2 linked regions of the Homo sapiens genome follow. Each later gene encodes a partner of the first gene's protein in a complex. Each region holds a gene or a part of one and is shown on either strand. Other genes may lie near its edges. The genes, in order: PNOC and OPRL1.

Region 1 (7,265 bases):
GAAGGAGGGTGGGGGGAAGATTGCAGGCCAGTGTGGAAAGAGGGGAGGTTGGATCTGAGCCACTGTGGGATGGCAGAGCTGGGGTGCATGGTGAGGCATGCTATCTACTCCACCTGCCAGGCTGGGCCCCCGGGCTGATGATTTTGTGCTTCTGCAATGTTGAAGCAGCTGCCAGTATTTTGAAAAAAAAAAAAAAAAAAAAAAAAAAAAAGAAAGAAAGAAAGAAAGAAACAAACAAAAAAAACCCCACAGGATCGTGGAAAATTGAGACTGAAACTAATTGTAGCCTATCCAGGGAGATGCCCAGAAAACTGGCTTGCCCCTGAAATCGATGTGCTCCAAATCTCATGACTAGTTTGTGATTAGATGGAAAACTTTATGTTCGACTGTGGGATTTAAATAAAGGCGTTTAGAAAATCCAGTTTGCTTCATGACTGCCCAGCAATTCAAGCCACTGCCAGCCACTCATTGTCAGGACGGCTCCCGTTTTCTGAGAAGGGCCCGTCCCTTTCCTAAGATATCTGAGGAGTAGCTCCACCCAGACTCGGAATGCAAGATATTTCAAAGCTTCCTTCGTGGGCTTTGGGAGCTGTGGAGCTGGATGGAGAAATGAGGGATCACTGAACCGTGTCAGTGCAAGTAGAGAACGCTCACCTGAAACTTCCCATTCCTACCAGTGTGCATATGTGCATGTGTGTATTAGCATGAAATAAGCACGTAGACAAGCTTAGCTCACTGCCTGGCACAGAGTGGGTTTCAAGAAATGTTAATTCCTTTGCCCTCATTTTATGTGTTTGACCTGGCTGCTGCCTCCCTCTTCAAAGCCCTTCACCCATCCAAATTCCACCTGCCTTCTCACTTGGTAGGATCCCAGGAATGCCTGGAGGAAATGCTCCTTCTCCCGAATTCTTCTAGCACTTGCTCTCTGGATTATGTGATTTAGGACTGAATTACACCCTGCCTTGCATGGTCCTCTAATTGTTTCTCATGTTTGTGTTACGTCTCTCCTCTACCCCCGACCCCACTATGAGTTCATAAGCACCCCTGACCGTAACGGGGAGATGAACTGGAGCCACAATGCCTTGGCTCAGTCCTGACCCTGCCATGTACTGAATAAATCATTTAATCTCTCAGTTTCAGTTTCTCCAACTGCAACACCGAGATAATGGCACCACCTCACAGGGCTGTTGCTGGGATAATAGGTGTGAAAGCGCCTAAATCGTTGTACAAATGTAAAGTGCTGTTATTATCACCTCTGCTGAATCTACTAGAGCCCCTGCAAGCCTCCCTGCCTGGTGGAGTGTAGACGGTAACTACCTGATTGATTGAATACAGGATAGCTTAGTGACAGCTCTTGTCATAGGCTCCAGGGAGCACAGGTTTGAGCCTAATCCTGCAATCACTCCCTTCACTGACAATGCAAACTCGCCTGCATTTTACAAATCCGTAAGTACTCTCAGCCTTCAGCTGATAAAGCAGGGGCTGCTGCCCTGTGCGCAACAAAACTGCGCCCTCAAAATGACCCGAGGCTGTACCACAGCGCCCTCGCCAGGCAGCACCAGGCGGCACATGCTTTTACAGAGGTGGTGATGGTTGGGGATGGGTTTTCCAGGGACCCTCCTCTGCAGAAGACTCAGCAAGCCCAAAGGAGCACGAATCCTTTTTGTTAAAGGTAACATAGCCTCAGTGTAAGCTTGTAGAATATTTCCCTGCCACACTTTACAAATGAGAAAAAAAGAGGCTGCATGCAGTAGCCACCCACAAGCAGCGAAAAAGAGCAGTATTTGCTTTGGGAGGTTTTGATAAGAAGCCAGGCAGTTACTTTTCCCATCTATGTTGAAAACTCTGGTTTGGGCTTGCTGGCGAATGCCGTGCAAAGCTCATCTTTTGTTAGTCTGCCGAACAATGTTATTGGTTATAATTGGGGCAATTATGGGCTGCTTGAGGAAGCTAAACACAGATGTTTAAGCGCAGGATGGGGGTATTCAAGTCCAAAGCAGCTTGCTTTAAATAGTCCATTTCCCGAATCATCCTGCCTTACTTGAAATTCCCCCAGAACTTGCCCATGTTCAGAGCGAGATTCGGGGAGGAGGGGCTGGGTAGTGAAGCCGGGGAAGCAAGACTCGAGGGAGAGAGATGCACAAAGAGAGGAGGAAGAAAGAAGGTGGCTGAGAGAGCCTCGAGAGTTGGGATGCGGTGACTATGAACGGAGTATTCTGCATGACCTGGGCAAAGACCTTTAGGTGGGGGAGATGGGCAGGGGGAGAGGGATGCCAAGCAAGAGAAGAGCCCTCTAAATGAATCGGGTTCTGGGAGACCAAGGTCACGCCCGTAGAAATGCTCTCTGGAATTCACACGCCGTGGCGCTCAGCAGTGTGTGTATACAGGTGAAGCACACTCCCCAGATCTGGCGCTTCCCCATTATTTGTAGCAATTTCTGCTGGGGGCAGAAGGGAGAAGGGCTCCCTCCGGATTAAAAACTCCCATCTGGATGGCATCAAGTTCAGTGATAGGCGGAGAAGCAGCCTGCGCACCGCATCTGAGAGGAAAGGAAGCCACTGAGAGGAAACCCTCATGAGGGGGCCAGGGTCTTCCTGGGGGCCGCCCCGTGGAAGGCAAACCCCCTCCCAAGTGCCTGCCCCTCCTCTGGCCTCACTCCTCCAGCAGCCTCCTCTCGACACAGAGCAACAACCACGTAGGGGCCACAGCTGGGGAAGCAAAACTTTTCCTCATTTCCAAGTTCCCCTCTTTCTGCTTCTGCGTCTGTCTGAGGTTAAAAAAGAGACTCAGCCCTCCCCCGTTCCCCACCATCCAAGCGCTACAAAGGAGATGAATGAAGAAACCATCTCGCAAGAGGCCAGCAGCATCCACACTGGACAAAGGAGAGAGGCCGAGGAGCCAGCCCCTGGTGGCCCTGCCCTCCCGGAGCTCCACGCAGTTAGTCCAGTTAGTCGCGGTCGGGCTGGGGGCCCCGTGCAGTTGCCTACCTGAGAGCTGTCAGTCCCCGGCTCCCTCCGATGGATGCGAGGCTCGGTTCCGCTTTCTCAGCCACACCAGCATATATATCCTCTCCCCCACGCACAGCCCTCCCCTTCCCTGCCCACCTCCATGACACATACACACACTGACCCCCTTCAGCAACCAAACAGCAGAACCTGCAAGCCTTCCTGGCTGTTCCCTTCCCCCGGCTCTGCCATCAGACCTGTGACATCCCCACCTCCCCATCAATCCATTCTCAAGCCTGCTTCACCTGGACTCTGTTCAGCCAGGATCCCACAGCTGCCTTCCCTGTGCTTCCAGAGGCTCTGTGAGGACTGATGGGGAGCTCTGGCAAGTCAGAAAAAAAGCCTCCTGGTGACAGTGACGAGGCAGACCCCAAATCCTGGAGTCTCCTTGAGCAACCTTTTTGCCTGAGGAGTGAAGAATAGGAGGCAGGCAGAAGGGAGGGGAGCTCATGCCAAGCTCCTACCGACTCGGAGGAGCCCAGGGCTGAGCTAAGCCAAGCCCTGACCTAATGTCATTGCCCCTAACTAGGCCACTCAAGAGGTGGCTGCACCTGCCCTGGGCCAGGTCAGGAGGCATTTCCACAGGTGCCCACAGCATGGTGCAATGGAGAATGCTGAGACTCGAGGCTCAGATGGAAGTGTCTGAAATTCGGCTGTACAGTCAGAGCAAGGCACATCTCTTTGTGAACCTCAAGTCCTCCTTCCGGAAAATGAGTCTAATACTGCCCAGGATGGTTGTGAGTAGAAAAAGGAGATTCTGTTTGAATCTACAACACACGAGGCCCTTAATGAATGTGCTGCATCCTCCCTCTCCTCTCAGCCCGCTTTTCACACTGATTAGTACCACCTGGATGTAGAAATCCCATATCAGTGTCTGGTGTCACAACAGAGAGCTTTTAAAGCTTCTGCAACTTAGGGCATCACTACCGAGGGCCCTGGAGGCTCAGAAGCTCTGGAAGCTTCCCTGTCCCTTACTGCAGAGCCTCTTTGTCTTCTACAGCCGCCGGGGGTTGTGGGCTGCAGGAAAGGAGCTCACAGGCTGAAGGCACAGGCTTGAGGGTTTAGCATCCTTGTGGACCCCACGTTTCCTTACCTTAGGTGAATTTCACCATGACCCTGTCCTTGGTTTTCCTAAGAGGGTCTAAAATATTCCAGAATCCCAGGGTTTGAACCTATGTCATCCAAGGAGCTCAAGCACTCATTCATGTGGTTAAGTCCAGCTCTCTGGTCTACCCAGGACTGGGTGGAGAAGGATTGAGGGAAGCATCTGCCCTGACTGCAAATGGTATAGGGTTTCTTTTTGGGGTAATGGAAATGTTCTGGATTTAGACTGAGGTGATGGTTGCACAACATAGCAAGAATACTAAAACCCACCAAATTGTATGCTTTAAAATGGTGCATTTTATGTTATGGGAATTACATCTCCATAAAAAGAAAATAGGAAAAAGACAGCAAACATCTGCTCAGGTTAAGAGCAACAGGTTCTGAGAATAAAATTTCCCTTCCGTCTGTGTTCACAGCAAAAGGGCTCAGGAGACCAGCATACTCATGATTCTTCACTTAGATCTCTGTTGCCCAAACCTTACACTGCAGGTCGCAGCTACCATTTTGGACTCTTTGGGAAACCAGCATGTTCACTGACTGACACGGGGTCACTTTTGCATCCTGATGTACTTCAGTGTCTCAGGCCTGGAACCTGATTTCATACATGATGTGGCAGATATTGCAGGCTGCCTACCCAATCCCCATTTCCCTGTTCTTCCTTACTAAACGGTACCCTTGATTTTATTCCAGGCATCAATGCACTTAGCTAAAAGACTACATTTCCCATTGACCAAGGGTTGCCAATGAGCATTAAGCTGCAGGTCCTTGGGTGGGGTTTCCAGGAAAGCTTTTTTTTTTTTTTTTTTAGACGGAGTCTTGCTCTGTCGCCCAGGCTGGAGTGCAGTGGCGCCAACTCAGCTCACTGCAAGCTCTGCCTCCCAGGTTCATGCCATTCTCCTGCCTCAGCCTCCTGAGTAGCTGGGACTACAGGCACCTGCCACCATGCCTGGCTAATTTTTTTTTTGTATTTTTTTTTAGTAGAGACGGGGTTTCACCATGTTAGCCAGGATGGTCTTGATCTCCTGACCTTGTGATCTGCCCACTTCGGCCTCCCAAAGTGCTGGGATTACAGGTGTGAGCTACTGAGCCTGGCTGGGAAAGCTCTTTTAAAGGGGGTCAACTCACTGAAGGCCTCTCTCTCTTCTTTGTCCTCCCTCCATCCTGCCTGGGACACAAATGTGATGGCTGGAGCTCTAGCAGCTATCTTGGATTATGAGATAAGACAACTTTGAGGATGGAAGCCATGAGTAAATATGATGGAACATAAAGATGGAAGGATTTTGGGTCCCCCATGACTAATGGAATGGCCATATCAGTCTTGGACTCCAAACTTCAACCTTTTTTTAAAAACAAAAAAAAAACAAAAAAAACCCCAAACATTTATTTCAAATGTCAGTCAGGGTTCAGTTACCCATTGCTGCATAACAAGCCACACCAAGGCCAGAGGCTTGAAACAACAGACCACGTATTTGACTCATGATTCTACAGATTGGGAATTTTGGCTAGTCTCAGCAGGGCAGTTCTTCTGGTCTCAGCCTGACTCTCTTCTGCACCTGCAGTTGGACTCAGAAAGTTGGCTGGGTGTCAGCTGGGGACCTTGGTTCTCTTGCACATGTCTTATCCTTCATGGGTCTCTCACATCCCTCCAGCATATTAACCTGGCATAGTCTCATGGCAAGCCTGAAGTGAAAGCACAAGCAAATACAATCAAGCAAGGGAACAACCGCAAGCACACAGAACCTCTTGAGACCTAAGCATGGAGCTGGCAGTCCATTGCTTTTGCTACATTTGTTGGCTAAGGCCAGTTGCAAGACTGTCCAGAGCCAGGCTGGGTGGAGACTACAAAGTCCCAGGATAATAGAGGGTGGCTATGCAGAAGCCATTCATTGGAGGCATTTGAAACTTTTACTTCCTATGATTTAAGCCATTTAGTTGGATTTTCTATTACATCCAGTGGAAAATTACCTTAAACCAACACACCTGCCTTTGAGCACCTCGTCATTCCCAGGATGTTCAGGCAGCTAAATGCTTTTCTTCCCTTGCAGTTGAGGAAGAGAAAGAGCAAGAGTGAAAAGTCACTTAGCTTCTCTGGACTTTTCTTTCCTCATTTACCAGACAGAAGAGTTGAACCCAACACCTGGATATTCTTGGTGGGTTGAATGAAGCTGCATGTGGTGGCAGGCTGTCTCCAGTGATGGATGGGGAAGGGCAGGATGAACCCAGGAGGGAGTTTAAAACCACTGTTGGGTGGGGGAGTAGAAGAATCTTGCCCCTCAGAAAAGCACAAGTAGACTAGAAATGGTGCAGACTGTGTGGCGTTTGTGATGGCTTCAGGGCTTCCCCCTTGCCACACAGCCACTGAGACTTGGCACTTTGAGAGCCATGGGCTTCCCTTGGGTATGGTAACTGGTCACAGAGCAGCAAGCTGCCCCCTGCTTTTCTGATTGGCAGGATACATTTATTAAAATAGTTGGAAAAGAAAGGTCACATGTTCTTATTTCTACTGCTTTGTGTGTGTGTGCACGCGCGTGTGTGTGTATGCGTGTGTGTGTGTGTGCACAAGAACTTGGAATTAATAAAATTCTTGGCTGGGCGTGGTGGTTCATGCCTGTAATCCCAGCACTTTAGGAGGCCAAGGTGGGAGGTTTGCTTGAGCCCAGGAGTTCAAGACCAGTCTGGGCAACACGGCAAGACCCTGTCTCTATAAAATATAAAAAACTAGCCAGGTGTGGTGGTAAGCACCTGTAGTCTCAGCTACTTGGGAGGCTGAGGAGGGAGGATTACTTGAGCCTGGGAAGTTGAGGCTGCAGTGAGGCATGATTGAGCCACTGCACTCCAGCCTGGGTAACAGAGTAAGACCTTGTCTCATAAAAATAAAATAAAATAAAATAAAATAATGATTTCTTCTGCTTATGAGGTGGCGGAAGTTCACTCCTGCCCACACCAGCTTGGCATCTTCTTTGCAATAGAGGCCCAACCAGGGAGGCTGCAAACATTAGAATCCAATCTGTACTGATAGGTAAGTTTTGAGGCAGATTGAGAAAGCTCTTAAAATTGTCATCAGAATATCTCAGTAGAGGAAGTACAAGGGAAGGAGGCAGCTGCAGCTGGGCCCCATGTGCAGCTCAACGCACCTCCACCCACCTGCCAATTTTC
Region 2 (4,338 bases), on another chromosome or scaffold:
ATCACCACTATCACCACCACCACCATCATCACCATCACCATCATCACAGTCATCACCATCATCACCATCATCATCATCACCACTACCATCACGCTCACAGTCATCACCATCACCACCATGATCACTGCCATCATCACCACCACCATCACCACCATAATCCCCCCCAACTATTACAACCATTAACTTATTTAACAAAAATTTATTAATCACCAACGATTTTCCCAGCCCTTTCCAGCACCATTTCAGGTGCTTGGATACACTCATACCTTATTAGCATCCCTCCTGTCCCCCCGTCACCATTTTCGGTCTCCATTGCTAGGCAGCAGTGTGGACTTGGAAGCCTTTTGATATGTTCTTACAGATTCTGGAGCCCTCAGAAACCTCTGGCAACTGTAGGGTCAGCATTTGAGTCTGTGAGGGGTCATGGAGGGGACTCAAAAGCAAGGGGAGCAGACTCTTTCCCTTAGGGCTCTAAACCTTTGCTCCTGTGCAGAATCCGGGGTGTGTTCTGGTAGCCTACATGCCCTGACTCCTCTAAAGTAGACCTGTGTTTAAGGCTTGGAATCCTTCTGTGTGTGTCAGAGTCACTTGAGGAGCTGGTTAAGACGTTTGACCCCAGGCCCTACCCCCTGAGACTGACTCATGAGTCTCAGGTTGGGTCCAGGAGCTATCACTTACCAAGCCCCCATGGGAACTCTGATGTTAAGGGACTCAGGGCCACTGTAGCTTGTGGTGGCCAAGAGGAGCCCCTTGCCCTTTGCTGCCTGGTCCAGCCAGCATGGCCAAGTGAAGCCTTTCTTCTCCCTCTACTCCGCAGGCACACCAAAATGAAGACAGCCACCAATATTTACATCTTTAACCTGGCCCTGGCCGACACTCTGGTCCTGCTGACGCTGCCCTTCCAGGGCACGGACATCCTCCTGGGCTTCTGGCCGTTTGGGAATGCGCTGTGCAAGACAGTCATTGCCATTGACTACTACAACATGTTCACCAGCACCTTCACCCTAACTGCCATGAGTGTGGATCGCTATGTAGCCATCTGCCACCCCATCCGTGCCCTCGACGTCCGCACGTCCAGCAAAGCCCAGGCTGTCAATGTGGCCATCTGGGCCCTGGCCTCTGTTGTCGGTGTTCCCGTTGCCATCATGGGCTCGGCACAGGTCGAGGATGAAGGTCAGTGGGGTGTCCCCTCCTCCCCTCACCAGGCTCCCTGGCTCCCGGGTGGCTCCTCTGGGCCCACGTGCCCTCCACGTCTCCTGGGCCCACTCTGACCCCGTTTCTCTCCCTGCAGAGATCGAGTGCCTGGTGGAGATCCCTACCCCTCAGGATTACTGGGGCCCGGTGTTTGCCATCTGCATCTTCCTCTTCTCCTTCATCGTCCCCGTGCTCGTCATCTCTGTCTGCTACAGCCTCATGATCCGGCGGCTCCGTGGAGTCCGCCTGCTCTCGGGCTCCCGAGAGAAGGACCGGAACCTGCGGCGCATCACTCGGCTGGTGCTGGTGGTAGTGGCTGTGTTCGTGGGCTGCTGGACGCCTGTCCAGGTCTTCGTGCTGGCCCAAGGGCTGGGGGTTCAGCCGAGCAGCGAGACTGCCGTGGCCATTCTGCGCTTCTGCACGGCCCTGGGCTACGTCAACAGCTGCCTCAACCCCATCCTCTACGCCTTCCTGGATGAGAACTTCAAGGCCTGCTTCCGCAAGTTCTGCTGTGCATCTGCCCTGCGCCGGGACGTGCAGGTGTCTGACCGCGTGCGCAGCATTGCCAAGGACGTGGCCCTGGCCTGCAAGACCTCTGAGACGGTACCGCGGCCCGCATGACTAGGCGTGGACCTGCCCATGGTGCCTGTCAGCCCGCAGAGCCCATCTACGCCCAACACAGAGCTCACACAGGTCACTGCTCTCTAGGCGGACACACCCTGGGCCCTGAGCATCCAGAGCCTGGGATGGGCTTTTCCCTGTGGGCCAGGGATGCTCGGTCCCAGAGGAGGACCTAGTGACATCATGGGACAGGTCAAAGCATTAGGGCCACCTCCATGGCCCCAGACAGACTAAAGCTGCCCTCCTGGTGCAGGGCCGAGGGGACACAAGGACCTACCTGGAAGCAGCTGACATGCTGGTGGACGGCCGTGACTGGAGCCCGTGCCCCTCCCTCCCCGTGCTTCATGTGACTCTTGGCCTCTCTGCTGCTGCGTTGGCAGAACCCTGGGTGGGCAGGCACCCGGAGGAGGAGCAGCAGCTGTGTCATCCTGTGCCCCCCATGTGCTGTGTGCTGTTTGCATGGCAGGGCTCCAGCTGCCTTCAGCCCTGTGACGTCTCCTCAGGGCAGCTGGACAGGCTTGGCACTGCCCGGGAAGTGCAGCAGGCAGCTTTTCTTTGGGGTGGGACTTGCCCTGAGCTTGGAGCTGCCACCTGGAGGACTTGCCTGTTCCGACTCCACCTGTGCAGCCGGGGCCACCCCAGGAGAAAGTGTCCAGGTGGGGGCTGGCAGTCCCTGGCTGCAGACCCCGAGCTGGCCCTGGGCCAGCCGCACCTCTGAAGGTTTTCTGTGTGCTGCACGGTGCAGGCCTCATCCCTGACTGCAGCTTGACTCTGGGCCCAACCCCCATTTCCCTTCAGGAGACCAGCGAGAGGCCCTGGCCCATTCCCTCCAGCGGTGCAATGAACTATCATGCTGTGGACCGTCAACCCAGCCCTGCTTCTCAGTGTGGGGCAGGTGTCTCAGGACGAAGGCGCCGCGTGACCACATGGGCAGCTCTGTTCACAAAGTGGAGGCCTCGTTTTCCTGGTCTTGACTGCTCTGTTTGGGTGGGAGAAGATTCTCTGGGGGTCCCCACATCCTCCCAAGGCTCCCCTCACAGCCTCTCCTTTGCTTGAAGCCAGAGGTCAGTGGCCGTGCTGTGTTGCGGGGGAAGCTGTGTGGAAGGAGAAGCTGGTGGCCACAGCAGAGTCCTGCTCTGGGGACGCCTGCTTCATTTACAAGCCTCAAGATGGCTCTGTGTAGGGCCTGAGCTTGCTGCCCAACGGGAGGATGGCTTCACAGCAGAGCCAGCATGAGGGGTGGGGCCTGGCAGGGCTTGCTTGAGCCAAACTGCAAAGGCTGTGGTGGCTGTGAGGACACTGCGGGGGTTGGGGGGGGGGCGTCTGTACCTCAGGGGATGCCCCGCTGTGGTCACCCAGAGAATCACCCTTCCTGGTCTACAGATGGAAGCTGCAGGTTGGTGACTTTGCAAATGCACTTCCTACAGATGAACTATTAAAAGACCTGCAACATTGAAAAAACTCATTTTTTCCACCAAAACCTTGGCCAGGTAACCTACCTTAGGCACCTGCAAAGAACAGGAAGTGATGGCTGTCTCGCAACAGAGCCTGGGCTGCTCCTCCTGCTCTGGGGAGTCTAGGCCGTGGGGACTGTTCTGGGGAGGCTCATGCTGTCTCCATGACGTCTGTGGCAGGAGTCCCTGAGGACGGGAGCTGCCTAGCTACAGTTTTCTTGCCAAGGCGAGGTGTTTTGTGAATCTGTGCTGATGTAATGTGCACCTTCACGTATTTATGCATGTGGCAAGCGTTACTTCCTGTGCACGTAGCCAGCCCTGGGTCTGTCTCTGGGGTAATGAAAAAGGACCCTAATAAACACCTGCTCACTGGCTGGGTATTCTTTGTAACCAGTGTTTCTGGCTCCTGCCACCTGGGGATTTGCTTCTGGAGTGACTTTTCTGGGATTGGCACGTGGGTGGGAGGAGGCTATGGGTTTAGGCTGAATTCTTGTACCTGTCCTGTGCTGCTCAACAGGCTGGGCTCTGCCCTCAGTGAAACGTCCCCCAGGAGGCTGCAACCCTGGGGAGAGTTGAAGCCAGTTAATGGTGTGTTGGCCGGGCTGTTACCTTTTCTTCAGCACACACGGTTTCTCTCTAAACAACCGATGGCTGCACCTCTCCCCTGCCCCCTGGAAAGAGAGGTTTCCTGAGGATACAGTGGGAGGGTGCTGCTCCCACCCAGGTTGCAGGGTTTTCTTACCCCCATTTCATCTCAGAAGAACCCCTGCTCCTGCTCATTTCCCCTTCCTTGAGCAGATCTGAGGGGAGTTTTGGTGAAGGATGAGCAGACGGCCTCCTCTAGGGCTGGGTACACTCTTGCCATGGACATCTGCCTCCTGGTTCCTGTTTGGCCCAGTTCAGCCCAGGCCGACCTGCAAAACAGAGCAGCTTTGGAGGGTGGGCACGGGCACACTCCAGTCCAAGTACTCGTCTCCAGGGCATGGGCAGATGGGCAAGTTCTGTAGGATTTTCTGTAGGTTTGAATGACAGACACTGTCTTATCCTGGACTGCTATAGCAAAGTACCA

The links.
Region 2: the proteins of PNOC (region 1) and OPRL1 are in contact, whole or in part, in a cryo-EM structure (PDB 8F7X), measured with the Homo sapiens proteins. Residues at the interface, in NP_006219.1 of Homo sapiens: Phe130, Gly131, Gly132, Phe133, Thr134, Gly135, Ala136, Arg137, Lys138, Ser139, Ala140, Arg141, Lys142, Leu143; in NP_000904.1 of Homo sapiens: Gln107, Asp110, Gly114, Phe115, Trp116, Val126, Ile127, Asp130, Tyr131, Met134, Gln192, Glu194, Ile198, Glu199, Cys200, Leu201, Val202, Ile219, Val279, Gln280, Val283, Gln286, Gln291, Pro292, Ser293, Val298, Leu301, Arg302, Thr305, Tyr309.

What each region holds. Positions count from the first base shown.
Region 1 is NC_000008.11:28,313,039-28,320,303, reverse strand, and holds the start of PNOC (prepronociceptin isoform 1 preproprotein), read right to left. Parts: upstream 3,037-7,265; 5' UTR 2,988-3,036; intron 1-2,987.
Region 2 is NC_000020.11:64,096,985-64,101,322, forward strand, and holds the end of OPRL1 (nociceptin receptor), read left to right. Parts: intron 1-817; coding exon 818-1,173; intron 1,174-1,291; coding exon 1,292-1,815; coding exon of another isoform or gene 1,816-1,902; 3' UTR 1,903-3,649; downstream 3,650-4,338.